7 linked regions of the Homo sapiens genome follow. The protein of the gene in region 2 purifies or fractionates together with the protein of the main gene of each other region. This does not show direct contact. Each region holds a gene or a part of one and is shown on either strand. Other genes may lie near its edges. The genes, in order: ABAT, ECI1, HIBCH, NFU1, CHID1, ACP6 and HMGCS1.

The links.
Region 1: the proteins of ECI1 (region 2) and ABAT fractionate together in Homo sapiens (co-fractionation; one large-scale study listed by BioGRID). This does not show direct contact.
Region 3: the proteins of ECI1 (region 2) and HIBCH fractionate together in Homo sapiens (co-fractionation; one large-scale study listed by BioGRID). This does not show direct contact.
Region 4: the proteins of ECI1 (region 2) and NFU1 fractionate together in Homo sapiens (co-fractionation; one large-scale study listed by BioGRID). This does not show direct contact.
Region 5: the proteins of ECI1 (region 2) and CHID1 fractionate together in Homo sapiens (co-fractionation; one large-scale study listed by BioGRID). This does not show direct contact.
Region 6: the proteins of ECI1 (region 2) and ACP6 fractionate together in Homo sapiens (co-fractionation; one large-scale study listed by BioGRID). This does not show direct contact.
Region 7: the proteins of ECI1 (region 2) and HMGCS1 fractionate together in Homo sapiens (co-fractionation; one large-scale study listed by BioGRID). This does not show direct contact.

What each region holds. Positions count from the first base shown.
Region 1 is NC_000016.10:8,779,117-8,782,616, forward strand, and holds part of ABAT (4-aminobutyrate aminotransferase, mitochondrial isoform 1 precursor), read left to right. Parts: intron 1-362; coding exon 363-474; intron 475-2,133; coding exon of another isoform or gene 2,134-2,192; coding exon 2,193-2,314; 3' UTR 2,315-3,500. UniProt on the Homo sapiens protein: Catalyzes the conversion of gamma-aminobutyrate and L-beta-aminoisobutyrate to succinate semialdehyde and methylmalonate semialdehyde, respectively. Can also convert delta-aminovalerate and beta-alanine.
Region 2 is NC_000016.10:2,248,788-2,252,750, forward strand, and holds the start of ECI1 (enoyl-CoA delta isomerase 1, mitochondrial isoform 1 precursor), read right to left. Parts: upstream 2,801-3,963; 5' UTR 2,780-2,800; coding exon 2,728-2,779; intron 2,643-2,727; coding exon 2,529-2,642; intron 1-2,528. UniProt on the Homo sapiens protein: Key enzyme of fatty acid beta-oxidation. Able to isomerize both 3-cis (3Z) and 3-trans (3E) double bonds into the 2-trans (2E) form in a range of enoyl-CoA species, with a preference for (3Z)-enoyl-CoAs over (3E)-enoyl-CoAs.
Region 3 is NC_000002.12:190,309,827-190,313,326, reverse strand, and holds part of HIBCH (3-hydroxyisobutyryl-CoA hydrolase, mitochondrial isoform 1 precursor), read left to right. Parts: intron 1-2,530; coding exon 2,531-2,573; intron 2,574-3,500. UniProt on the Homo sapiens protein: Hydrolyzes 3-hydroxyisobutyryl-CoA (HIBYL-CoA), a saline catabolite. Has high activity toward isobutyryl-CoA. Could be an isobutyryl-CoA dehydrogenase that functions in valine catabolism. Also hydrolyzes 3-hydroxypropanoyl-CoA.
Region 4 is NC_000002.12:69,416,936-69,420,435, forward strand, and holds part of NFU1 (NFU1 iron-sulfur cluster scaffold homolog, mitochondrial), read right to left. Parts: intron 2,670-3,500; coding exon 2,603-2,669; intron 1-2,602. UniProt on the Homo sapiens protein: Iron-sulfur cluster scaffold protein which can assemble [4Fe-4S] clusters and deliver them to target proteins.
Region 5 is NC_000011.10:908,011-912,257, forward strand, and holds the start of CHID1 (chitinase domain-containing protein 1 isoform a precursor), read right to left. Parts: upstream 2,801-4,247; 5' UTR 2,765-2,800; exon of another isoform or gene 2,631-2,764; intron 636-2,630; exon of another isoform or gene 532-635; intron 1-531.
Region 6 is NC_000001.11:147,664,025-147,667,524, reverse strand, and holds part of ACP6 (lysophosphatidic acid phosphatase type 6), read left to right. Parts: intron 1-3,500. UniProt on the Homo sapiens protein: Hydrolyzes lysophosphatidic acid (LPA) containing a medium length fatty acid chain to the corresponding monoacylglycerol.
Region 7 is NC_000005.10:43,303,413-43,306,912, reverse strand, and holds part of HMGCS1 (hydroxymethylglutaryl-CoA synthase, cytoplasmic), read left to right. Parts: intron 1-3,500. UniProt on the Homo sapiens protein: Catalyzes the condensation of acetyl-CoA with acetoacetyl-CoA to form HMG-CoA, which is converted by HMG-CoA reductase (HMGCR) into mevalonate, a precursor for cholesterol synthesis.

The sequences.
Region 1 (3,500 bases), 6.5 Mb from region 2:
GCTAAAGTCTCACCACGGCCCCAGTGGGGTCAACAGCATTTAAATCCTTCAGTTTATAGCAGGGTAAACAGAGGCACTTGAGTGGCCCAAGGTTATACAGTGAGAGGGACAGAGCTGGGCTTGGTTGTTGTTGCTGGTGGTGGTGGTGGTGGTTTTTTTCCTCCACACAACACACATGTGCACAGCTGGGCTTTGAACCCAGGCCTGAATGTCCCCAGAGCTCTTAACCCCCTGGAGGTCCTGCCAGTCCATGCAGAGGCCGAGGCTGGACCATGGGAGGCCTTTGACGAAGCACAGCCATTAAGCCCAGCTGGTACACAGGTGATGGGCTTTGACGCCAGCCTTGTCTCCTCCCACTACAGGCCCGGTACCCCCAGTTCATCAGCAGGGTGAGAGGACGAGGCACCTTTTGCTCCTTCGATACTCCCGATGATTCCATACGGAATAAGCTCATTTTAATTGCCAGAAACAAAGGTAAGGGGTCAGGAGTGGCTGCTGAGTTTCATGAGCATCCAGTATCTCCTGCTGTAGCTGCCACATGTTGCTAGGTACTCAGCAATATTTTGTGTGGGGGGCAGGTGGTACACAGGTCTGAAAAGAGCCTGAATGCTCTTTCTCCAAAGAAGAGAACATTACAAATGGGATTTCTTTATCCATTTATTTACTCAACAAGCGTTCGCTGAGGAGGTGAGTTGTAAGTGGACACTGGAGACAGTTACAGTGATGATGAAGACCATCAGAGCCCCTTCCTTCAGGAAGCATGCAGTGTAGCAGGAAGGCATGGCTTTACACATGGCATTTCACAACCAATCCATTGCAATTTTAAGTCCTGGGAAGGAGAAAACGCAGCTAAGAGAGCAGATAGCTGCAGCAGTTGGTGAGGGTAGGAAATCAGGGCAGGCTCCCTTGAGGAAGTAGCATTTTACCCTAAGTCTTGACAAACAGGGATTGGCTGGGTGAAGAAGGTAAGGAAGAGCATTCTGGGCGGAGGGAAGGGTGCATGCGATGGCCTGAGGTGGGATGGAGCTTACAGAGGTGGTAAAAGGGAAAGAAGGGGGCGTGAAGGCGAACGGTTGGGAGGGGATGAAGCTGGGGGAGGAGAGGCCAGGCCCGGGTCGCATGGGCCTGCAGATCAGGCTTAGCACTCCAGACTTCATCCTAGGAGCTGTGGGAAGCCACTGAGGACATGTGTGGCAGGGGTAAGGGCAGACGCTGTGGTGAGATCAGAGCACGTACTCTATGTCAGGCACATTGTCAGTTCTTCTTGTGCCATCTTACAGAATCCTTGCAGCAGCCTCAGAAGGGCAGGGATAATCAACCTCCATTTTAAAAATGAGAAAACGTGGTCTCAAAGGCATAAACAGGCCGGGTGCAGTAGCTCACGCCTGTAATCCCAGCACTTTGGGAGGCCGACGTGGGCAGATCAGCTGAAGTCAGGAGTTCGAGACCAGCCTGGCCAACGGGGCAAAACCTCATCTCTACTGAAAATACAAAAATTAGCTGGCCGTGGTGGCGGCACCTGTGATCCCAGCTACTTGGGAGACTGAGGCAGGAGAATGGCTTGAACCTGGGAGGTGGAGGTTGCAGTGAGTGAGACTGGGTTGCCACTGCACCCCAGCCTGGGTGACAGCGCGAGACTCCATCTCTAAAAAAAAAAAAAAAAAAGGCATAAACAACCTCGACAAGGAAAGGACACCAGCTGTAACTGTGAAGTCACCCTTTAAAATAAGCAGAGCCTGTCCCTCCTCCGTAATAGCTCAGCACCTCACACATGCTTCCGACTCAGCCTGTGCTTTTGCAACTTATTTGCTTACCTATTTTCTTTTCCCACTCCTCCATGACTTTGTGGAAGGCAAGGACTTTATCTCAGGATTTCTCTATCACCAGACCTAGCTTGGGGCAGCAAAGCAGGCACTCAAAGGAGAGAGGGAGGGAGGAAGGGAAAAAGGAAGTGTGGAGGGAAGGAAAGGAAGAAGAGAATGATGGAGGAGATGAATGAGGGGAGAGAGAAAGGAAATGAAGACTGGATGGGTGGGTGGTAGGAAGGAAGCCCGGGCTTCCATGATGGAGGATGATGGATGGATGGATGGATGGATGGATGAGCGTTGCCAACAGGCATCACTTTCCCCCCAGCTCTCCCAGCATGTGACTTTGAGAAACCACGCTCCTCACCTACCTCCTGCCTCTTTCAGGTGTGGTGTTGGGTGGCTGTGGTGACAAATCCATTCGTTTCCGTCCCACGCTGGTCTTCAGGGATCACCACGCTCACCTGTTCCTCAATATTTTCAGTGACATCTTAGCAGACTTCAAGTAAAGAAGCCATTTCCACTACAGTGAGAAAGCCCGGATCCCAACAGTTGTCAAATTGATTAGTTTGCCTAATTCATGTTTTCACTTAAAAGTATCAGAGGTGAATGCACAGTGAAGGGTGATTTGTGGGGAGGGAGCATTTTTGGTGGTCTTGGGGGAGGGGAGGGGAGGGAAGGGCTGGTGTTGATTTTCCTCCCTGCAGAGCCAATGGTGCACATTGGTTTAAGCCCAGAGATCCTGCTTGAGCCCTGGACTCATCTTGGGAAGGGCCATGGGAGGTCCTGGCTAGAGTTCTGCCCAACCTTGACCAACCCCAGCAATTTTTCCAAAAGCCAGTCAAGGGCATTACATTTGTTCCTGGGACTGGCAGCTGGGCCTCCTGGGTGCCAGTCCATCTCAAGTGCCATATTCTGTGATCACGGATGTTGGCTCCCCCTCGCCCTATGCAAGCAAACACACTCTCACCTCCTCTCCCAGCCTCCCGGAGCTCTGAGCACGCCCCACGCATGGTGCAGGAGGGACTGGACAGATCTGAGGAAGGCCGTAAAATGGGGACAGGAGGATTCAGCTCAGGAGTAAGGGAAGAGGTCCTCTGGCCCCCTGAAGATGAGAATCACCCCTCTCAGTGCACCTGGGGATCCCCCTAAACTGTGAATTCTGCCCTGGACAGGGCTTTGCCCTTGGAGGATCCCCAGGTGGCCTTACCCGTGATTCTTACTCGGCATCCTCCATTCCCCAAACTCCCTCCTCCCTGTTAAATGTCAACCTAGACCTGGACCTGGGTGGGAGGAAACTGTAGCCTGAGTGTCCACAGGGACACACGTGAGCCACAGGGCTAGAAGCACAGGCCCGTCACCCCAGGAGGAAAAGCCCAGGGTCTGGGGCAGCAGAGCCATCGCATCATGTTTCCCAGGGCAACTTGAGGTCTGACTTTTGGCTCCCTCGCCCTAAGAGGCTCTTCCTCTCTTTTGCTCATCCACCTTCACACCACTTGTGAGCTGACCCCCAGGAACAGCTTGGCTGTTCCACCAGAGCAGAGGGAATCATTGCTGGACTGGATTTCTTCTGGAGGGAAGCACCATGAATTAAAGGTGCCAGAGCTCCATGCATGGAAAAGTGGCCTGTTGGTTCAACGTGGTTTCCTTGTACTTGATCCTCCTGAAATGAGAGATTTTCCTGAGATGACTGAG
Region 2 (3,963 bases):
GCCGCTGCCTAGTTCCAGAACCTTTTCATTGTCCCAAAAGGAATCCCTGTCCCCATGAGCAGTTGCTCCTCATCCCACCCCTAGCCCCTGGAAGCCGCCAGTCTGCGTTCTGTGTCTGCGGTTTTCCTGCTCCAGCCATATTCCATATCACTGGGATACCGCCGGGCTTTGTTGTCGGCTTTGTCCACTTAGTATCATGTGTTCAAGGTTCATCCATGTGGTTGTCATTCCTATTTATTTATTTATTTATTTTATTTAATTAATTAATTTATTTTTGAGACAGATTCTTGCTCTGTTGCCCAGGCTGGAGTGCAGTGGCGCGATCTCGGCTTACTGCAAGCTCCACCTCCGGGGTTCACACCATTCTCCTGCCTCAGCCTCCCAAGTAGCTGGGACTACAGGTGCCCGCCACCACGCCCGGCTAATTTTTTTTTGTATTTTTTAGTAGAGATGGGGTTTCACCGTGTTAGCCAGAATGGTCTCAATCTCCTGACCTCGTGATCCGCGCACCCTGGCCTCCCAAAGTGCTGGGATTACAGGTGGGAGCCACCGGGCCCGGACTCAAAAACATGTTATCTTAAGGTATTGGAATGGGTAGTGTGGACTACACATTGTGAATATACTTACGGCCACGGGGTTGTACATTGCAAAATGGCTAGAATGGTAAATGTGAGGCATATTTTAAAGATTTTTATGTACACACACACACACATTACCTCCGGTAAAAAAGGAAAAGTGTTCGTACAATGACAATTTTTTTACTCGAGTGCCTCCCCACTTTACCATATAAAAAGACAACGTAAGCCGGGCGCGGTGGCTCACGCCTGTAATCCCAGCACTTTGGGAGGCCGAGGCGGGTGGATCACGAGGTCAGGAGATCAAGACCATCCTGGCTAACATGGTGAAACCCCGTCTCCACTAAAAATACCAAAAAAAAAAAATTAGCCGGGCGTGGTGGCGGGCGCCTGTAGTCCCAGCTACTTGGGCGGCTGAGGTAGAAGAATGGTGTGAACCCGGGAGGCGGAGCTTGCAGTGAGCGGAGATCGTGCCACTGCACTCCAGCCTGGCGACAGAGCAAGACTCCGTCTCAAAAAAAAAAAAAAAAAAAAAAAAAAAAAGACAAAGTAGAGTTTGGAGTCAGAAAGTCAGGCCTGACTGAGATTGCAGTGAGCCGGAACCGCGCCATTGCACGCCAGCCTGGGTGACAGAGGGAGCCTCTGTCTCAAAAAAAAAAAAATAATAATTTTTTTTTTTGCATTTTGTTGAGATATATTCAAATATGCTACAGAAATGATCCCTTCAGAAACTCAGTTTTTACAAAAATTAGTGGGCATAGTGGTGGGTCCCTGTAATCCCAGCTATTTGGGAGGCTGAGGAGGGAGAATCGCTTGAACCCAGGAGGCACAGGTTGCAGTGATCGGAGATTGCGCCACTGCACTCCAGTCTGGCGACTGGAGAGCAAGACTACATCTCCAAAAAAAAAAAAAAAAAAAAAAAAAGTCAGTTTGAAGTTGGTCTTAGTTTGTCCCTCTCAAGTTTGTAGAGAGAGCCCAGGCAGCTCCCTCAGCCCAGACAGAGAGGACGGAACCAAGTTCAGAGGCACCAGGAGCCTGGAGTCCTGAAGCTGTGCAAAGTTGGGCACAGCCCTGAGTCTGGGGGGTTGGGGAGGGCAGGGGCTGTGACTTACTTGCGGAGGGGGAGGGCCTCCTCTCAGGAGCCACAGCAGGGACTGCTGCACCGGGAGGTCCAGGTCAGCATGTCCTGGAAGCAGAACTGCTGGCGCCTAGGCGTGCCCTCTCGGTGCCCTCAGCTCGGCCTCCTGTCTGGAGGGAGCGCACAGGCTTCTCTTCCAAAAGTACTTTTTCTATCCTTTCCAGTGGGTTTTACCAAGGGTTCTGACGGGCGGGTAGGTACGAGGTTCTGTGCCACATGGGAGTGTTAACAAACGTAATTTTATTCCAAAAGATTCCAATTCTTTTCCACTTCCAATTGAATAACTTAGATAACAGCTCATATCCCCGCCAACTTTATTTTTATTTATTTATTTATTTTGAGACGGAATCTTGCTCTGTGGCCCAAGCTGGAGTGCAGTGGCACAATCTCGGCTCACTGCAGCCTCCACCTCCCAGATTCCAGCGATTCTTCTGCCTCAGCCTCCCAGGCATAGGCACGCACCACCACGCCCAGCTAATTTTTTTCTTTTGTATTTTTCAGTACAGATAGGGTTTCATCATGTTGGCCAGGCTGATCTCGAACTCCTGACCTCAGGTGATCCGCCCGCCTCTGCCTCTTAAAGTGCTAGGATTACAGGCGTGAGCCACCGCGCCCGGCCTCCGCCAACTTTAAAAACAGAAACTTTTATCTCATGACGAACGAACCCAGGTAGAGCGGCAAGGTTCTGTTTCGAAACTTGGGTTCTAAACACAAACCGAGCGTCGACAGACGTGGTTCTCCGACAGCACCCCGCGAGCGCGGACCCCCGCGGGTCCTGACCCCACGCCCGCCCTCCCTCGGCGCCGCCCGCTCACCTGCGCCCGCGTCCGGCTCCACCAGCACCCGCTGGCTCCCGAAGCGCCGCGCGCCGTCTCCGCCGCCGGCCGCCCGCTCCGTCCGCCCGAGGGCCGCGCCCGGGAGCCGGGCCCCTGCGAAGGCAGCGTGGGGGAGCCCGTTAGTTCCCGGTCCTGGCCCCGGCCCCGGCCCGATCCCTGCCCACCCCGGGTTTCGCACCCGCGCGGAGCAGAACGCGCGCCGGGACTCGCACAGAAGCCACCAGCGCCATCTTGACCGCAACGCGCGGGATAAAGGTCGCGGGCTGAGCTCGCCTCCTGGGGAGGGGGCGGAGCCCCCCCAACTAGGTCCCGCCCCGTTCCCAGAGGCTGGTCAACGCCTCCACCTACCGGCCGAAACAGCCGCTCGCCGCCCTCCGGCTTCACCCCGGGCAGCCGCGCGCTTCCGGGGCAGGCACCTGGATCTGGGCCAGGGCTGGCCTACAAGGAGGCGCAGGCCCACTGCTGAAGCAGCCACGACCAGCTCAGCGCCAGGGCAGGCTCTTCTACAGCGCGGGACACTGTAGGCAAGAGGCTGCCGGTGTTCGTGACCGCGAGCTCTCGGCCGGGCCCAGCTACTGCAGTATCGGCGCTGGAAAGGCGATCAAAGCACGGAACCCCTCCCGAGGGGGCCGTCAGGGAGGCCAGGGGCTGCCTGGGGTGAGCCCGGCCTCCTGCCCCTTTGGGAACAGGATCAGAGCTGCAGGTTTAGTCACCGAAATGGGGGTGGGGGCAGCAGAACCCAGCGGTAAGAACAGGCCACCCGCCTTGCTCAGCACAAGGGCAAGTGCACAAAGGCCGGACCGCAGTGGCACCTTTTTATTTGCAGAGAAATGCCGAAAGATAAGAATACAGTCTGTTCCCGCTGGGCCGTAAGCGGCAGCTCGGGAGTGGGCCTTTGTACTGTCTGGTGTGGGGTTTTGGTCAGACCACTGGGAGCACTGGGCAGTAAGGTCCCAGCTGTGTTGGGTGGTCTCAACTTTTGTTCTCATCTTAAGCATTTCCAATTCTTCCTTGTGTCCCAAACCAATTTTTGAGGTGGAAAAATGGCCACTTAACGGAGGAGGAAGCAAGCCTGGCATGGTGACACACACCTGTAACCCCAGTGACTCAGGACCAGCTGGGTAACATAGCAACAACTTGTTGCTACAAAAAATTCTTAAAAATTAGCTCCTGCTGCTGGGCGCGGTGGCTCATGCCTGTAATCCCAGCACTTTGGGGGCCAAGGTGGGCAAATCATGAGGTCAGGAGTTTGAGACCAGCCGGGCCAATATGATGAAACGCCGTCTCTACTAGAAATACAAAAAATTAGCTGGGCATGGTGGCAGGTGCCTGTAATTCCAGCTACTCAGGAGGCTGAGGCAGGAAAATCACTTGAACCCAGGAGGCAGAGGTTGTAGTGAGCCAATATTGCGCC
Region 3 (3,500 bases), on a different chromosome or scaffold from region 2:
CCAATATGCTAATAGCCTAAATAGGTAAGTGTAGGGAAGAACAAAGAAGTTGCTTATGAAAGGTTTAAGGAAGCAATAACATTTTTAAATAAGGGGAATAGGCTGTGAGCTCGAACATGCCCGTGAGCATGTCCAATAGTTACGTAGGATAGGGCTTAACAAAGAGTTACTAGCACAAAGCAAGGAGGCATGAAGAAAGTTAGTCTTTAAAAGAAATTATTATTTCTAACAGTTATGATTTATTCTTTAACAGGAAGAAAAACTTTGAAGAGGAAACTTTTTACTTTCTACACTCTGCCTCCCAGGTTTAAGCTATTCTCCTGCCTCAGCCTCCTGAGTAGCTGGGATTACAGGCGCCCACCACCATGCCTGGCTAATTTTTGTACTTTTAGTGGAAACGGGGTTTCGCCTTGTTGGCCAGGCTGGTCTGAAACTCCTGACCTCAGGTGATCCGCCTGCCTTGGCCTCCCAAAGTGCTGGGATTACAGGCATGAGTCACCATGCCCAGCCGAGTCTCCAGGTGATTCTAATGTACAGACCAGTCTTGGAATTACTGGGCTACATTTTACTTGTGAGACAAATTCAGAAAATGCTAGTTCAGGAATGTGAATTATAACTGACTTAAACAAATAGGTTGTTTCTCTCTTTTGTATAGTATTATTCAATTTGAATGTAATATAAAAAAGTCATATAAATTCTGAAAGGCAAGTTGGATTACAAATATTTTTATAAATTCAGTCATCCAAGTTGTTACAAGTGGTAACTGGTGATATTGCCTTTTGTGAAACCTCAGGCTGTTGGTCTTCATATAATCTCAGAGTATTCTTGAAAAATTAACAGATTGTCAGTTTATCAGTTCCATTAGTTGGTATATGTATCTGCACATGTGCACAGCCCTTATCAGGCTGCTGCAGCTACTGATTCTAGCTTTGACCTCTTTCCATAGATCTTAAATTTAGCTTCTTAAACAAAAAGCATGCATCTTAGTATATTCTAACTATAGTGTTTTTATTTGCACATCTGTCATTACGTTGTGGGTTTCTCGAGTGCAAGAGCTATGTCTTTTAGGACATTTTTTAAAAAGCCCAAAGCATAATGATACAACTTGATGAATTTTCACAAATGAAACATACCTAAATCACCAGCACCTGGATCGAGAAACAAGCATTCCAGAGGCCCTCCTCATGCCTCTCTCAATCACTGCCGTTCCCGGTGTTGTCTTTTACTTTCTTATTATAATTTACATAAGGCACTTGAGTACACCGTTCTGAAGTTTATAGCTTAGTGAACTTATACCTGCAGTCCTGTAATCAGCATTGGGATAGAGACAATTTCCAACATTCCGTGTTTGTTCATGCCCCTTCCCAGGTGCCCCCACCCTCACCATTCTCATGTCCATTATTAGTGGTCACTTTGGTCAAGCTGTGTCTCAGGCTTTGTATTCCTAGCCCAACAAGCACTTTTAAGACAGCAAAAAATAGAAGTGTGTTGTGTTTATTGTTTTGTAGCCTGCTCTCCTTTTGTGATTTGTCACTACTTTTCCATGTTAGTATTTTTAGTGGTTGTGTAATGGCTGTATTAATAGACACAGTCTTTAAAATAATGCTCTACTCTTAGACATTTACTTTGTTTTCAGTTTTTCCATCCTGTAAATAATGTGAACATATTTATCAATCAGACTTTGGTCATATTTCTGAGATTTCCCTAGTGCAAATGCTTGCGGAATTAGTGGATTGAAGGGTGTGATCATTTTAAAGGCTGTGGATTTGTATTTCCAGACTGTTTACCGGAAAGGCAGTACCAATTTATACCTCTCTCTAGTGTCTGAGAATGCTGTTTGTATTGCATCTTTAACAAACCTTTTTTCTTAAGATTAATGACTTTATTTTTTAGAGTAGTTATAAGTTGATGGAAAAAATGACCTGCAAATTTGAGCAGAAAAGTTTGACAAATAATAAGGACATGTATCAACCATTACAGTATCATACAGATTAGTTTCACTGCCCTAAACATCTCCTGTGTTTCAACTGTTCATCCCTCCTTCCGTCCCCCAAACCCCTGGCAACCATTGATCTTTCTACTGATTTCATAATTTTGCCCTTTTCAGAATATCATACAGTTGAAATGAGAGTATGTAGCCTTTTCAGACTGGCTTCTTTTGCTTAGTAGTATGTATGCATTTAAGTTTCGTCCAATTTTTTTTGTGGCATAATAGCTCTTTTCTTTTTTTCATGGCTGAATAATATTTTATATGGTTGTATTGAAATTGGTTTGTCTTCCAACCATTGAAGAACATCTTGGTTACGTCCACATTTTGGCAGTTATGAATAAAGTTACCATAAAATTCATGTGCAAAGTGGCTGTACCATTTAATGTTCCTACCAGCAGTGAATGAGAGCTAAACCTTTTAAAACTTTTTGTTCTGGTAATACCTTTTAGAAGAGGCTGAAACAAAAGGTGATATACTATTTGTCAACTGAGACATGACTACCCACATTACTGTTCTCATTGTTTTCCACATTTGTTTCAGGTTTAATGCATTCAAAAGGACTAATACCATACTGCACCATTTGGTAAGTTATTGTGTTTGTTTTGCTGGCATTATTTGTATGTGTAACTTAAAATGTCATTGTTAGAGAAGTAGAGAAATACTGGTATGGCAGATTTCCTTGACCTTAGGTACATCATGGTTCTCAACTGAGTGTCAAGACATGGCACACGCACCTTGTAGGAGGTGGCATAAGATTATGGTTAAAACCATGGTTCTTACAAGTCAGAATGCCTGAGTTTAAATAATGGGTTCACTACTTAATCTTGGGTGGATTACTTGGTCTCTTACAGCTTCCCTTTTGATATGTATAAAGTGAGAATAATAATAATATCTACCTTAGAGTGCTTATAAATGATAAATAAGATAATTGTATTAATCAGTGTTCTCTAGAAGGACAGAACTTATAGGACATATGTATATATGAAAGGGAGTTTATTAAGGAGAATTGACTCACATGATCACAAGATAAAGTCCCATGATAGGCCGTCCGCAAATTGAGGAGCAAGGAAGCCAGTGATGGATCAGTCTGAGTCCCAAAACCTCACAAGTTAGGAAGCTGACAGTGCAGCCTCCAGTCTGTGGCCAAAGGCCCAAGAGCCTCTGGCAAACCACTGGTATAAGTCCAAGAGTTCAAAAGCTGAAGAACTTGGAAGCTGATGTTTGAAGGCAGGAAGCATCCAGTGCCGGAGAAAGATGAAGGCTGGAAGACTCAGCAAGTCAAGTCCTTCCAACTTCTGCCTGCTTTTATTCTAGCCACTCTGGAAGCTGATTAGATGGTGCCCACTCAGACTGAGGGTGGGTCTGCCTCTCCCAGTCCACCGACTTGAATGTTAATCTCCTTTGGCAATACCTGCACAGACATACCCAGGAAAAATACTTTTCATCCTTCAATCCAATCACGTTGACAGTCAATATTAACCATCACAATAATGCATTAAAAAATCTAGCA
Region 4 (3,500 bases), on a different chromosome or scaffold from region 2:
AAAAGGTGAGATAAATGGGGACTGCTAAGGTTATAAAAGTAAAACTAGTGAAATATCTTAGTGATTGGGAATGGAAACTAGTTGTAGGTAATAAATTATTTGGAAAACAAATCAGAGTGTTACCTCAGATCTTCAGTAAATAGCAGGCTCTACTAAATAGGAAAATATTGGTAATAAAAAGAAAAAATATTCTAAAGTTGTCTGAATGAGAAAAAAAGGGCAGCATATAAGCTGCAAATATACATATATATTTAGAAAAAAATAACACAAATGATGCATAAAGAAGTCTAATTATCAACTGGAAATCAGAAATAGAAACAGGCGATTGCTGAAGACATTCAGTAAAATGTGATAGTCCATGATGAGAAACATTACTGGAAGAAAACAAAATAAATCCAGTATTCCGTCTATTAAATACCAACGTGGGCCAGGCGTGGTGGCTCACACCTGTAATCCCAACATTTTGGGAGGCCGAGACAGAAGGATTGCATGAGCCCAGGAGTTTGAGACCAGCCTGGGCAACATAGAAGGACACTGTCTCTACAATAAAAAAAAATAAAAAAAAAATTAGCTGGGCATAGTGGCATGCACCTGTAGTCCCAGCTACTCGGGAAGCTGAGACAGCAGGATCGCTTGAGCCTGGGAGTTAGTGGTTGCAGTGACCCATGATCGCACTACTGTATTCCAGCCTGGGGAAACAGAGCAAGATCCCATCTATATGTATGTGTAGATAGATAGATATACACACACACATACATATATGTGTATCAACATATACCCTAACTTGGGATATTATCTATTGGTTATGTCATTTCACTTAAGAAAAAATTGTAGAGCTAGGGCAATTTCAAATAGGGTAACTAAATAATGAAAGTAAGAGAGCTAAAAGATGACTTACTAAATCTAATCAAGAAAAATAGGAAAAAAAAAAAAACCAAAACCCTTTAAGATATAATCACATTTTTACCTATAAAAATTTTTATATAGCATAGGCTATACGTAAAAGAACTAAATAACTTTAAAAAATAAATATATAATTTCCCACTTATAAAATAACTAGTTGTAAGAATTAGATAACATATGTAAAGCACTAGGGCCATATCCGACATTGAATATATTAAATAAATGTTCATCCCTTCTTCTCCTTAAAAAATATGGAAGAAAGAAAACTGAAGAATGGGGGGCTGGACGTGGTGGTTCACACCGGTAATCCCAGCACTTTGGGAGGCCGAGGTGAGCAGATTGTTTGAGCTCAGAAATTTGAGACCAGCCTGGAAAACATGGCGAAACCCTATCTCTACAAAAAATACAAAAATTAGTTGGACATGGTGGTATGCACGTATAGTCCCAGCTACTAGGGAGGCTGAGGTGAGATGACTGCTTAAGCTCAAGAGGCTTAGGCTGCAGTGAGCTGAGATCATGCCACTGCACTCTGACCTGGGTGTGGAGTGAGACTTTGTCTCTAAATAAATAGCCGCAAGAGAATACTGGACTAGATGACTAGATTTAACATGTCACTAACCCAGTATGTCCCCTTTTTTTCTTTTTTGAGATGCAGTCTCGCTCTGTCGCCCAGGCTGGAGTGCAGTGGCCCGATCTCCGCTCACTGCAAGCTCCGCCTCCCGGGTTCACGCCATTCTCCTGCTTCAGCCTCCTGAGTAGCTGGGGCTACAGGCGCCCGCCACCATGCCCGGCTACTTTTTTTTTGTATTTTTAGTAGAGACGGGGTTTCACCATGTTAGCCAGAATGGTTTTGATCTCCTGACCTCATGATCTGCCCACCTCGGCCTCCCAAAGTGCTGGGATTACAGGCGTGAGCCACCACACCCGGCCCCCAGTATGTCCACTTTTAAGGACATAAAGAGCTCAGACTAATCCTTTCAATTTGCTTAAGGGGAGTTTAATAAATATTTTTGATTTTCACACACTATCAGGCAAGTGATTTAAGTTCCGTGGATATATGTCAATTAACAGATTTAAAAGGATACATAGTTCAAATTTAAATAGTTCATGTCCCATTAATCTAGTAGACATCAAAAATGGAACAGCCCTTTCTAGCAGATACTGCCTTGACTGTTGAAAAACATAGCATATTTTTTATAGGCGTGGTGGCTCACGCCTGTAATCCCAGCAATTTGGAGGCCGAGGCGGGTGGATCACCTGAGGTCGGGAGTTCTAGACCAGCCTGGCCAACATGGCGAAACCCTGTCTCTACTAAAAATATAAAAATTAGCTGGGCATGGTGGCAGGCGCCTGCAATCCCAGCTACTCAGGGTGGCGGGGGGGGGCGCCGAGGCAGGAGAATCACTTGGACCTGGGAGGCAGAGGTGGCAGTGAGCCAAGATCGCACCATCACACTCCAGCCTGGGGGACAAGAGCAAGACTTCATCTCAAAAAAAAGAAAAAGAAAAGAAAAAGAAAAACATAGCATATTTCGCTTGATTCTTGTGACATTTAGAGGACAAGAGAGTAAGACCCTGTCTCAAAAATAAAATATAAAAATTAAAGAACAGAAAGAATGGAAATGTTGGAGAGAGAGGCATTGGACTCAGAAAAAAATGAAGAGTATTTCAAGTCTTATTTTATATAATCCTATGTTTACCTTTGTGACAGTGATGAAATCTGGTCCAAAGAAGACACTTTTTACTCCTTCAATCCTAAATAACTGCCTGCAAAAAAAGAAAAAATAAGAGATATTAAAATGCTTGATTATGGAAAAGTTTAAACATACACAAAAGTAGAGAAAAGTAAAAAATTCTCCACATATCCTTTGCAGCTTTAACAATGATCAACTCATGGCCAATTTTGTTTTATATTCCTACTCTACGATTTAGCAATCCCACTCCTAGTTATTTACCCAAAAGAAATAAAAACTCGTGCTCCACAAAGACTTGTACATAAATCTTCATAGCAGCTTCATTTAAAATAGCCACACATACAGAAAAATATGGAAATGTCCATCACCTGGTGAATGAATAGACTGCTATATCTATACTATCAATCATTCATTCAACCAATATTTGACACCTACTAAGTGCCAGGCACTGTACTGAGCACTAAACAGACTATTTTTTTTTTTTTCTCTTTTGAGACGGAGTCACCCTCTGTCCCCCAGGCTGGAGTGCAGTGGTGAGATCTTGGCTCATTGCAACCTCCGCCTCCTGGGTTCAAGCAATTTTCCTGCCTCAGCCTCCCAAGTAGCTGGGATTACAGGCGCCCACCACCACGCCCAGCTAATTTTTGTATTTTAGTAGAGATGGGGTTTCACCATGTTGCCCAGGCTGGTCTCAACTCCTGACCTCAGGTGATCCACCCACCTCCCAAAGTGCTGGGATTACAGGCATGAGCCACCACACCCAGCCTAAACAGACTATTTTCAAAAGACTAACTTGAAAAGAGATTTTGCCAACTGAACATCTGACAGAAATAATCTCTAACTAATCTATAACTGAATTAATTGGGGCTTTTTTACTTTTACTTTTTTAATACAAAATATGAAC
Region 5 (4,247 bases), on a different chromosome or scaffold from region 2:
CTCCTGGTGCAGACTGAGGAGACTGTGGCTACCCCCAGGCAGGGAGTTTGCATGCTTTGGTACCCAATACACCCACAACACACCTGCATAGAAAGAACACGCTCCTGGAGCAAGATCAACCAGTGAAGCTCCCCCACCTAGGAGGCAGGGAGCCACAAGACAGCCTGACCTGCAGGCTTATGGGGAGTTAGGAAGGGAACTCACAGGGCAAGCACAGCAGCACCCAGTACATGGAGCCACAGGCAAAGGCAGTGAGTGCTTGAACAGCCACGGCAGTTCCGAGAGGCTGTGCAGGGGGAATAAGAAGGCCCAGGCACAGATCACCACCCTCTGCCCCGATCAACCTCTCCAGCCCCTCTCCTCAGTGATACATCCCAGAATCAGAACCAAGGGCAGCAGCCTGCTGCCACCTCCCCTTAGCCCCACTATCTTTCTGCTGCAGCTGAGGCTTGGTCTGAGTCAGCAACAGCCCCAGGGAAGGTGGGGAGGGTTCTGGCCATGGCACAGGGAAGACGGCCCAGAATCACTTGCCTGGCCAGGCTGAAACGGTGGCTGCCTCAGCTCCCAGGCACCCAGTCTTTGACCCCAGCCCATTCCATGACCACTGGCTCCTTCTCTGTCTTCTGGGTGGAAATCTGGGTCAGGGAGGAAGGAAAGGAATGAAAAACCAAACGGTGGTTCTCCAGGGGACTGGCCCAGGAGTAACTGGAGGGCACACTCAGGTACCCAGTGACCAACCACTATAGGGCTGGGTCTCTGCCCCTACCTGCCGTCCTGCAGATTTGAAACAGGGCCACTGTCCACCCACCTAGTGGCCCCTCTGCCTATGACCTCCCTGCCCCCCAACCTGTGATTTCACACTTCAGGGAAGGAAGAGGAAAGGGTGGAAGAGGAAGACAGTCCTGCCAGCATGTGTCCAGCAGAGGGGACACTAGGAGAACCTAACTGAACACAAGGCCAGGGTACTGCCTCTGTCCACTCGCGCTTAACTTGCCCGCTCTGTGATGGAGTGCTTGGATACAGGCTGCTCACAAATGCTGGGCTGCTTCTTTGACTTGCCATGGAACTTTCCAGACAACTGCCCCAGGGAGATGGTGTGTGTGATGTGTGAGGGGTGCTCACACTGCAACCAGGCCCTTGTCTGGGCTTTGGTACCTCTCCCGCTCCCCACTGCTCACCGGCCGCTCGGCTCTGAGGCCCGTGAGGACACTCTCCATCATGCTCTTCACATAACACAGACTCCCAGGTTCACACACACTGTGTTCCTGCATCAAACCGTTTCTTCCCCAAATGCCAATGACCTTCCCTTGGGCAGAACGGCCCCGCACACAAAGGGAATGTGTTGTGTTATGAAGAGGCACAGGCCCCGACCCTGGTCACCCAAAGGGGTCCCAGAAACCGCTCTGTAACAAGATAAGGTGGAGCGCTACTGCTCCCACTTTCCTGCGCTCCCAGTCCGTAGGTCCAGGACCTCCTCGGTGGTGTTGATGGAAATGATGGGAGTCACAGCAGGGGCTTTCCAATGCTTTTCATGGAGACCAGCAGTAAGAAATGCACTTTACGTCACAGCCCAGCACACGTGTATGTCATGTGTGCACATGTGTTGTGCATGTGTGTACATGTGTAGAGCGACAGCAGCCAATCAGAGCTAACTCTATTCTGCGATGGACGCACTGACAACTCCTGTTCTGTTGTGTTTTGAAGAACTAACTGGTGCATGGCGGCTCTGGCCTGTGATCCTAGCACTTTGGGAGGCCAGGAGTTTTTGACTGGTTTTGGCAACACAGCCAGACCTGGTCTCTACAAAAAATATTTTTCTGCCGGGCAGATCACCCCATCAGGAGTTCAAGACCAGCCTGGCCAACGTGATGAAACCCAGTCTCTAAAAAAGATACAAAAATTAGCTGGGTGCAGTGGTGTGCGCCTGTACTCCCAGCAACTCGGGAGACTGAGGCAGGAAAATCCCTTAAGCCCAGAAGCGGAGGTTGCAGTGAACCGAGATCGCGCCACTGCACTCCAGCCTGGGTGACAGCGTGAGACTCTGTCTCAAAAAAAAAAAAAAATTCTTAGCTGAGTGCGCTGGCGCACACCTGTAGTCCCAAGTAGCTAGGAGGCTAAGAGATTACTAGAGCCCAGGAAGTCGAGGCGGACGGGCGGGCGGGTCACCCTCCAGTTTGGACAGTCAGCAATGGAAGCTTCAAGGGTTGGGGCTGAACCAAGGGTGGGTGGGATCGCGTCTGATGCGCCCACCCTTCACGGGGACCGCGTGCCCCTCACTGGGAGGGCAGCCCGCCTGGAGCCCTACTGCCTCTGCTCCCTCTGGGGGTCCTGGGGACCCGATGGCCACCACTCTGCCACACGAGCCGCGCGCTCACACACTCCTCACCCGCCGGCCACATCCCTTGTCTGCGCACTCAGGCCCCTTCCACCCAGCGCGCCTAGCTCTCAGGCTTGCTCGCCCCAGCGCACGCGCTCCACCTCCCACTCGCGGTCCCCCCGACACGCGCCCCCGTCCACACTCGCCCTCCACCCCCGCTCTCGCTCACCCTCGCTCTCATAGCAACCCTCTCTCACCCTCGTCCTCACACCCTCTCACACGCCCCCTCACACACTTGCTCTCTCTCACGCACCCGCCCGGCGTCGCCCGCGACCCCACGCCCGTCCTCCCGGGGCCGAGCCTCGCTGCCCGGCGCGCCCACTTTGCGGGAGGGAAACTGAGGCCGTGCAAGGAGGAGGAGCAGGGGCCGGCCGCCGCGGGGCTCACCTGCATGTCAGGGAGGCCGGACGGCCACAAACGCACGGCCGGAAAACGCTCCAGCGCGCCGGAAGTCCCGCCCCAGGCGCCCGCGCGCCGCCGCCGCGCACGGCACGCTGGGATGGAGAGGGGCTGGGCCAGGACAGGGGACTGGGCAGGGCTGCCCGAAAGTCGGGGCCGGGGCCGGGGCCGGGGCCGGGGCGGGGCCGCGCCGGGGGCGGACCCCGGGCCCGGCGCGTTCACCTTGAGCGCCCCTGGTGCTCGCGCTGGAGCTGGTTATCAGGTTCCCGGCCCAGGGGTAGCCGGGTTCCCAGCGCCACGGCTCTTAGGCAGGCCTGGCGCCCTTGGCGTGGGGCCGCGCGGGGCCTTGGGCTCCAGGGCCTCTGCCCGGCTCGGCGGTGCCGGGAGAACCGCGCGGTGGGCTCCGCCCCGGCACGCTCCCCCGGGGACCCGGAGTCACCACTCCTGGCGTCCCCCCGACCCCCGCCTGAGTGGACCATCTCCATCCCCAGGCCGATGGCGCCCACTGCGCTGTCTCCAGCGGGGACTGCCCGAAACGCGCGCTCTCTCGGTCCGCACCCCCGCCTTGCACATTGCACGAGCCGGAGCCCCAGGAGGCAAACCAAGTTCCCAACTCAGCCCCTCGCGCTTGGATGAACGAGCGCGTGGCCAGCACTTTTGAGTCACCGCGCATTCTACGCGGCACAGGCTGTCCGACCCCCACCCCCAGCCCTAGCCGTTCCCAGCGCAGTTTCCTACAGAAAACCGCACGGCCGGGCCCCACCCTGCCCCGCTCAGCCGTTCCCGGGGCGCGCGTGGGCTCCAAGACACCCTGCACAGCTGCTTCTCCATTTCTGCTGCTTGGGAGCTTTCTCCTTAAACTAAGCTTTGTCTTTCTTTCTAGTCACGTTTCCTTCTTTCCCTTCCCGGTATTTTCTGCCAGCTGACGCCCACGCCTTTCCTAGAAGGGGCTGGGGGCTGCATGCGGTGCGAGGCACGTCCCCCACCAGCTGTGGGCTCTTACTCAGCTTAGCACTCGCTCTCAGCAAACGGCCTGGATGGTGGCCTGAAGCCTGACCTTTGGGGGTGAAGACCTCAAGTCGGCAGAGCTCTGGAGAGGGTCCCAGTAAGCTATGGCAGGTGTCCTCAGGGACATATGCGCAGTCCTCCCAATGCTAAGGAGGCCATGGCAACATCCAACTTCTCTTAGGAAAGGCACTTAGCCATTTTAGGATCTCATTGAGGTCAGAGGTCTTTGGCGCTAAAGAATTGCAGAATCGATCGGGCAGCCGCCGCCTTTAATCCTAGCACTTTGGGAGGCCAAGGCGGGTAGATCACTTGAGGTCAGGCGTTCGACACCAGCCTGGCCAACATGGTGGAACCCTGTCTCTACTAAAAATACAGAAATTAGGCGTGGTGGCGCATGCCTGTAATCCCAGCTCCTGGGGAGGCTGGGGCAGGAGAATTACTTGAACCTGGGAGGCTGAAGTTG
Region 6 (3,500 bases), on a different chromosome or scaffold from region 2:
AGATGTTTTGGCTGGGTGTGGTGGCTCATGCCTGTAATCCCAGCACTTTGGGAGGCTGAGGCAGGTGGATCAAGAGGTCAGGAGTTCGAGATCAGCCCGGCCAAAATGGTGAAACCCCATCTCTACTAAAAATACAAAAATTAGCCCGGTGTGGTGGTGGGCGCCTGTAATCCCAGCTACTCGGGAGGCTGAGGCAGGAGAATTGCTTGAACCCGGGAGGCGGAGGTTGCAGTGAGCCAAGATTGGGTCACTGCACTCTACCCTGGGTGATAGAGCAAGACTCCATCTCAAAAACAAAAACAAAAAACTAGTGTTTTATTGGGTTGTTTTCTTATGGCTTGAATGGCTGTTGGTTTAACCTGTTTTGCTAAAAGATTGTGCTTTGGAAATAAAAATATAGAACTTGATTGGCCATTTTTTTTCCTGATCATTAGAGCAGATCCAAATGCACTATCAAAAGAAAAGATTTGGCACTGCTTCCAGGCTTCCCTCAACTCCCCTGGGTGTCAAGATGGCCTCCACCCAGGGAGATTCCTCAGTTTTTATAAAATAAAGTCCAACCTACCCCAGCTTCACTGTTGATTAAGACATTTGGGTCCCTATTTATTTGACAATATAGATGAGCTGGGAAGCATAATGTAAGAATCTTTTATTGCTTAGTACCTTTCCAAAACTCAGCTAAAAGAAGCGGTATTCAAGAAGCATTACATGAGGTCCACCCATTCTTCAGGATCGATGGTTCTTAACCGTGGTGAACATTGGAGTCAACTGGAAAGCTTTAAAAAATACACATGCCAGGGTCTCCCTCCGAAGGATTCTAATTTAATTGGTCCGGGGTATCCAGATAATGTAAAAGACTCTCTGGTGAAGCTTGAGAATTATCTGGACTGAAGAGCATTAAAAAAGTGGAGGCCCCACTTTTTTGGGGGATAATCCAAATGCGGTTATCCCAGGTTGGGACTCAGGCATCAGTAACTTTTAAAAAATGTCCTGGTAATACCAGTATACAGACAAGGTTTAATATGATTGCTTTATTTTAAAATCTACACCTGGGAGGTTTTTGTTTACTTTTATGTAGATTTGTTCTTTTACCTGGAATGTAGTATATCAATCCCAGTACAGAATTGCCTTCGCTGAAATGTGCTTTGGTAAGAGGTTATCTTTCTGTGTTGAGAGAACTAGGAGAAACAATCCCACAGAACTCATTGCTGTGACTGCTGAAAAGATGTTCATTATATTACTCTATCCTCTTTATGAGGACCCTTGGGAGGAATTTGTCTGTTAGCATTAGGAATGGTGTGCTTCTCCTGAACAATTGGCTTGCTTTTTTCTTTAAACTAGTCTAGCTGATCAAGTTTGTTTCTTTATGTAAAAGTCAGGAAGCTGGGTGCCAAGTCTGTGGCCCACCTATAGTAAGTAAACAGATCTTCATGGTGTACATATTTTAGTAACCGTGTTACTGCATCCATTTCTTTGTCCCTACATTTGTTTGCTTTTGTCTTTCTTGCCTACTTTGAATTGGTTGTCTTACTATATTTTAATTTTTGCTATATCTACTTTATTACCCCTTGAAGAGGGGTATACACAAAATAAGTAAAATTATCAAGTTAGTCTTTGCCACTAACTGGGAAGCTTAAGAGCAGGAATGAGAATGAGAGTGTGTATGTGGGGTGGACACTATTATATGAAACTGATGTATCATCCATTCTTGAAAATCTGAAAACTGTACTTTAGACTTGACGTGACCTGGACTCCAGACTCCTAGGAGACGCCAAGGGTCCTCTCTTGGTGAATGTGCCTAACAGATTTCTTAGTGAGGCTGAATGGCCCTGTGGAGCTTTGTGTCAGGCCCTGTGGTGGACACTGGAACTACAAGGATGGATAATTCAGTCTTGCCTTTAAAGGAGTTTCAATGTGATAAAGCAGAGACAACAGATATCAATTAAGGCAATATGCTGGGAGCACTGGGAACACAAAGGAGGTGTCTCCAAATGTCCAAAACTGAAATCAGCTTTCCACCTGTTTTTCTGTCTTGGTCTTAGTTTTAGTCAAGGAATATCTCCATTACAAGGCTCAAAAATCAAAGTAGTCTCTTTTTTGTTCTTCTGTGTTTACCTACCAACACAGTCCCCACATAAAGCTTTTATTTACTCACTTGCCAAGTCTAACTCAAATGTCTTACATCTACCTCCTCTATTGTTAACTGGCTTAGATGAGGCCTTAGGCTCTCATGTGGACTATTGCTAACATCTCAAAATGGGCTTTTCTGCATCTAGTCTTCCCATTCCAATTGTGATGTATGCTGCCAGGTTTCAGATTTATTCTGTGGAGCCTGTGGGCTAAGAGGATGTTGAGCGGCTGGGGCTGTGGGATTCCCTCCTACTTCAACTAGAGAAATTCGAGTTTTTGCCTTTATACATACAAATCTAAAGTTAAACTTTATGTGGTATTTTCTGATTTAAAAATTGGAAAACCATTCCCAGGTTGAGGCAAACCAAACCACTTCTTTGCCATACACATTCTTTACCATCTCTGCTTTGCGCAAGCTTTCTAGTTATTTTTGGAATTCTGAATGTCACCCTTTATAAGTACAGGTATTTGCTTGTCTAAATACTATTCATTTAAAATGCTATTCCCTCAATGAAACTTCTCCTGAATCCCCAGCCAGAAGAGAAGGTCTGTCTTGCCTTTGAACTGCTATGGCCTTCATATGGTTTCTTGCAGCACATGTCAGCTTCTATTATGGTATTGCTGTCATTTACATTCACAGCTGGCCTTTTTTCTTTACTAACTTGAACACCCAGGAAAGGCAGGGTCAAGTTTTCTCAAGATGGGTATCTTCCACAGGAGCTGGCAAATTGTTGGAGCTATTAATTGTACCTACTGTGTGTGAGGCCCTTTGCTGGGAAACAGAAGTCAATAGATGACCGAGTCTCTGTTCTCAGGAAGCCAGGACAGACCAGTAAAGGAGCTCGTTTAATACACTTTGGTAAAGGCTACTAAAGAGAGCCACTGAAGCTACTGTGAAAGCATAAGGCCATGACCAAGGTTTCTGGGAACACTTAAGCTAAGTCTTAAGGAATGAACAAAAGTCTTTCTAAATGAATGAGGAGAGAAAATTCCAGGCATAAGAAACATGATACTGAAAGGCCATGAAATATGAGAAAGGAAAGGAAGTTGCGTGGCTAGTGAGTAAGTATGTAGAATAGGGAAGAAGTGGTAAGGGGGCTGCTAGAGAGGAGGTGGGGCCACATGAGCCATGAACCCTCGAAGGGTTTTTTTTATCCAGAGGGGTTAGAGGGTCAGAAAGAGGGAGCAGTGATTAACTGTGAAAGAAGGAAGAAGGCCTCTCTGTGAACACCTGGTCCTCTGATGTGTCAGAAGGAGGTTCAGGTGTTGGAGACCAGGTGCCAGTGGGACTGACACATGCCTTTGGGAAGAATGGAGGGCTCCCTAGATGCCAAGAGAATCTGAGGCTCCCAGTACCATTCTCCTGGGAT
Region 7 (3,500 bases), on a different chromosome or scaffold from region 2:
AGATTAGAAGTCTAGTACCATTTCATTTATTCAACATTAGCATCTACCATATGCCAAACAGTGGGTTGGGTACCGGGGACACAAAAATGAACAAAGCACGGTTCCTGCTCTCCAAAAGCTCCTTGTTTAATGCAGAGAGGCTAAGCCTAAATAATAGAGGAGAAACTTGGCAGTTTGAAATATAAATTGAATTTTCCTTATCTGAACAATGCTTGGGACCAGCAATGTTAAAGATTTTGGATTTTTCTGGGTCTTGGAATATTTGAGAAAACATACCATTTGAGCAGCCCTAATCTGGAAATCCAAAATCCAAAATGTTCCAATGAGCATTTCCTTTGAGCATCATGTTGGTGCTCAGAGAGTTTCAGATTTTGGAGCATTTCAGATTTTAGCATTTTTGTATTAGGAATGCTCAACCTGCAGCATCTTGACAATGGTTAGACATGCAGTTTGGAAAAAACTGTTGGCCTATGACAGAGAAGAGAGCAGAGGCAGAGCTCACTTAGGAGAGACTGATGCTGAAGTCCTTCCCCAACACAGCCATTGAGGAGCTAGGTTAGGACTTCCCTTGCACCAGTATCATCAGCTAGTTTCCCTCCCCCTTTTTTCCCCTTTCCAGTTCTCTTTCATTTCCAGATTTATTCTCAGAATAACTATATAGGTCTTTTATGTATTCTAGGCAGGAAGCATTCAGAAAACATTAACAAGGCTTCCTTATCTTGCTTTACTGATTCTGGAAATAGCATATGGAGTTTCTTTTGTCCACCAGAGGGAGTGAGCCTTCACTTTAATGAGACTTATTTAAGACTTTAGTCCTCTGTTGGTACTACTTTGTTGGAAGACTTGAAAGGTTTACAAAGTTCTCTGAAAGTTGCCTTTTCTCGCCTTTTTTAAGGATAGAATTTAAAAAGAAAATGTGTGTATTTTATTATAAATACAGAGTCCTCATTATTCTCTTTAGACTTATTTTATGGTGAATATAGTACTCTGAAAATAATAAAATGCATTATCTGTAAAAAATTAAAAACGTAATTTTTTTAACCATCAGATTTTTAAAATTATGTTCTACTTGAAAGTTTTTGTGATTTATCTCTTTTTTTAAATTTTTTAAATTTTTTTTTTTTTTTTTTTGAGACGGAGTCTCACTCTGTGACCCAGGCTGGAGTGCAGTGGCACGATCTTGGCTCAGATCTTGGCTCACTGCAACCTCCGTCTCCCAGGTTCAAGTGATTCTCCTGCCTCAGCCTTCCAAGTAGCTGGGATTACTGTTGCCCGCCACCAAAACCAGCTAATTTTTGTATTTTTAGTAGAGAGGGGGTTTCACCATTTTGGCCAGGCTGGTCTTGAACTCCTGACCTTAAGTGATCCGCCCACCTCGGCCTCCCAAAGTGCTGGGATTACAGGTGTGAGCCATCACACCCGGCCTCTTTATTCTTAAATAGTGAATTAACCAGAATATTCTATTCTCTGGTAGGGTAAAGAGTGAATACCATAATGTGAGCACCTCAGACCTGTAGCTAGTCTTTTTTTCCCTAATTTATATCTAACTATATCTAGCCTATTTCAGAGAGCATTTGAAAGGACAATGTAAGAGCACATGCTCAATAGGATAGTTAAAAGTAACATTTGCTGGGCACGGTGGCTCACGCCTGTAATCCCAGCACTTCGGGAGGCCGAGGCGGGTGGATCACTTGAGGTCAGGAGTTTGAGACCAGCCTGACCAACATGGTCAAACCCCATCTCTATTAAAAATACAAAATCAGCTGGGTGTGGTGGCACCCGCCTGTAATCCCAGCTACTTGAGAGGCTGAGGCAGTAGAATCGCTTGAACCTGGGAGGCGGAGGTTGCAGTGAGCCGAGATCACACCATTGCACTCCAGCCTGGGCAACAAGAGCGAAACTCCGTCTCAAAAAAAAAAGTAACATTTGAGACCAGAAACTATTAACTTTCTGTTCTTCTAAATGTCATGAAAGCAATTATTTCTCTGTATTAATTTTCCTGTCAACTTAATCACTCTCTTTCTGAATTTGAACCAAAGGCTAAATATTTCAGATTAGATGGCTTTTTACCAAGAACATAATGGAAAACACATTGGCTGTCAGAAACCCTCAGAGAATGAGTAATATTGACTGACTTGGACAATGTAAAAATGTTTTTTTCCATCAAAGTCAGAATTGTGTTTCACTTTCCATTTGATGTATGTGGGTTATTTTAGTTAACCTACGTTTTTTGTTTGTTTTCAAATGAAACATGTCATGTATTTAATGTAGGACATTTAGGAGTCATAGAGTTGTATCTTATTTTAGGAGTACTATAATACAAAGAATTGATCAGAGCTGGTCAGACTGTGACAAATACAGATTAATTCTGAAATGGAAGCCTTGCATTATAACTTTTTATAGAGAATTGTACAAGCATTATAAGGATAATTAAATATATTGCCAGTGTTGCTACATGATGCTCTTAAAAGACTAAAGTGAATTTATTAGTGAGTACAAGTATATTGCAAACTGGTTTATACCTTCAAAAAGATATATTCCCTGTTCACTTTATTTCCAATAGTGTTAAAAACCACTGAGCCAGGCAAGGAAGACCATACTGTCTTCAGCATATTTAAAGCAGTTTGAAGAGTTGAAAAGAATCTAAAGGGTAGCCTTGTGGGAAAGGCTGGAAAGGTGGTTACTCCTACTTTGGTGACTTAAGAGATCATATGTAGGAGCTTATAAGCCTATGGACTAGTCTTTTTCTGATAACAGTAGTTGTAGGGCTCTTTCTTGTGGACTATCCAGTATCTTATTTTACTATAAACTTAGAATCCATGCCTAGTGGCATATTAGGCAGCCCTTTTATATTTTCATTTCAAATTCAGCAAAGTGGGCACCAACTTTATCAAAAAATTGATGGGGAGAGTTTGTTGAAGCTCAGAGTGAGGATGGATGTAGAACATTTCAAGTGCTTCATATCCAGAAAATCAGTAGTCCTCCATCTGAGTTGTAGACACAGGAAAGGAGTTGAAGATGAATGGAGTAGGAATGTAAAAGCCTTATCTTTACCCTCCTCAGCTTTAGGTCTTAACAAGAATGAGCCTCCCTTAGTCTTTCTTTATGCCCCTGTCCCTGAATGTTGGTGATGACATTGTTTTTCCTGTATTGAATACAAAAATATGGCCAGTAATTTAGGAATCAAGAGGATATAATTCGGAAGTAGACTGTTGTGTTTAGGAGTTTTTCTTTCCATTGTGGAATTGAGTAGCAGCGGTATATATGCTATGTCTGGTAAAATGGGCCATACAGTAGTCTAAGACATGAGGAGACCTTAAGGAGCTTGGACTTAGTTGAGGTGACCAGACTATTTAATCTGCTTAGGTGCCACAGCAAAATACCATAGAGTAGGTGGTTTAAACAGCAGACATTTATGATCTCATAGGTTTGCAGTCTGGAAGTCAGGGTGCCAGCGTGGTTGGTTCCCGATCAGGGCTCTCCTCCTGGATTGCCCGTGT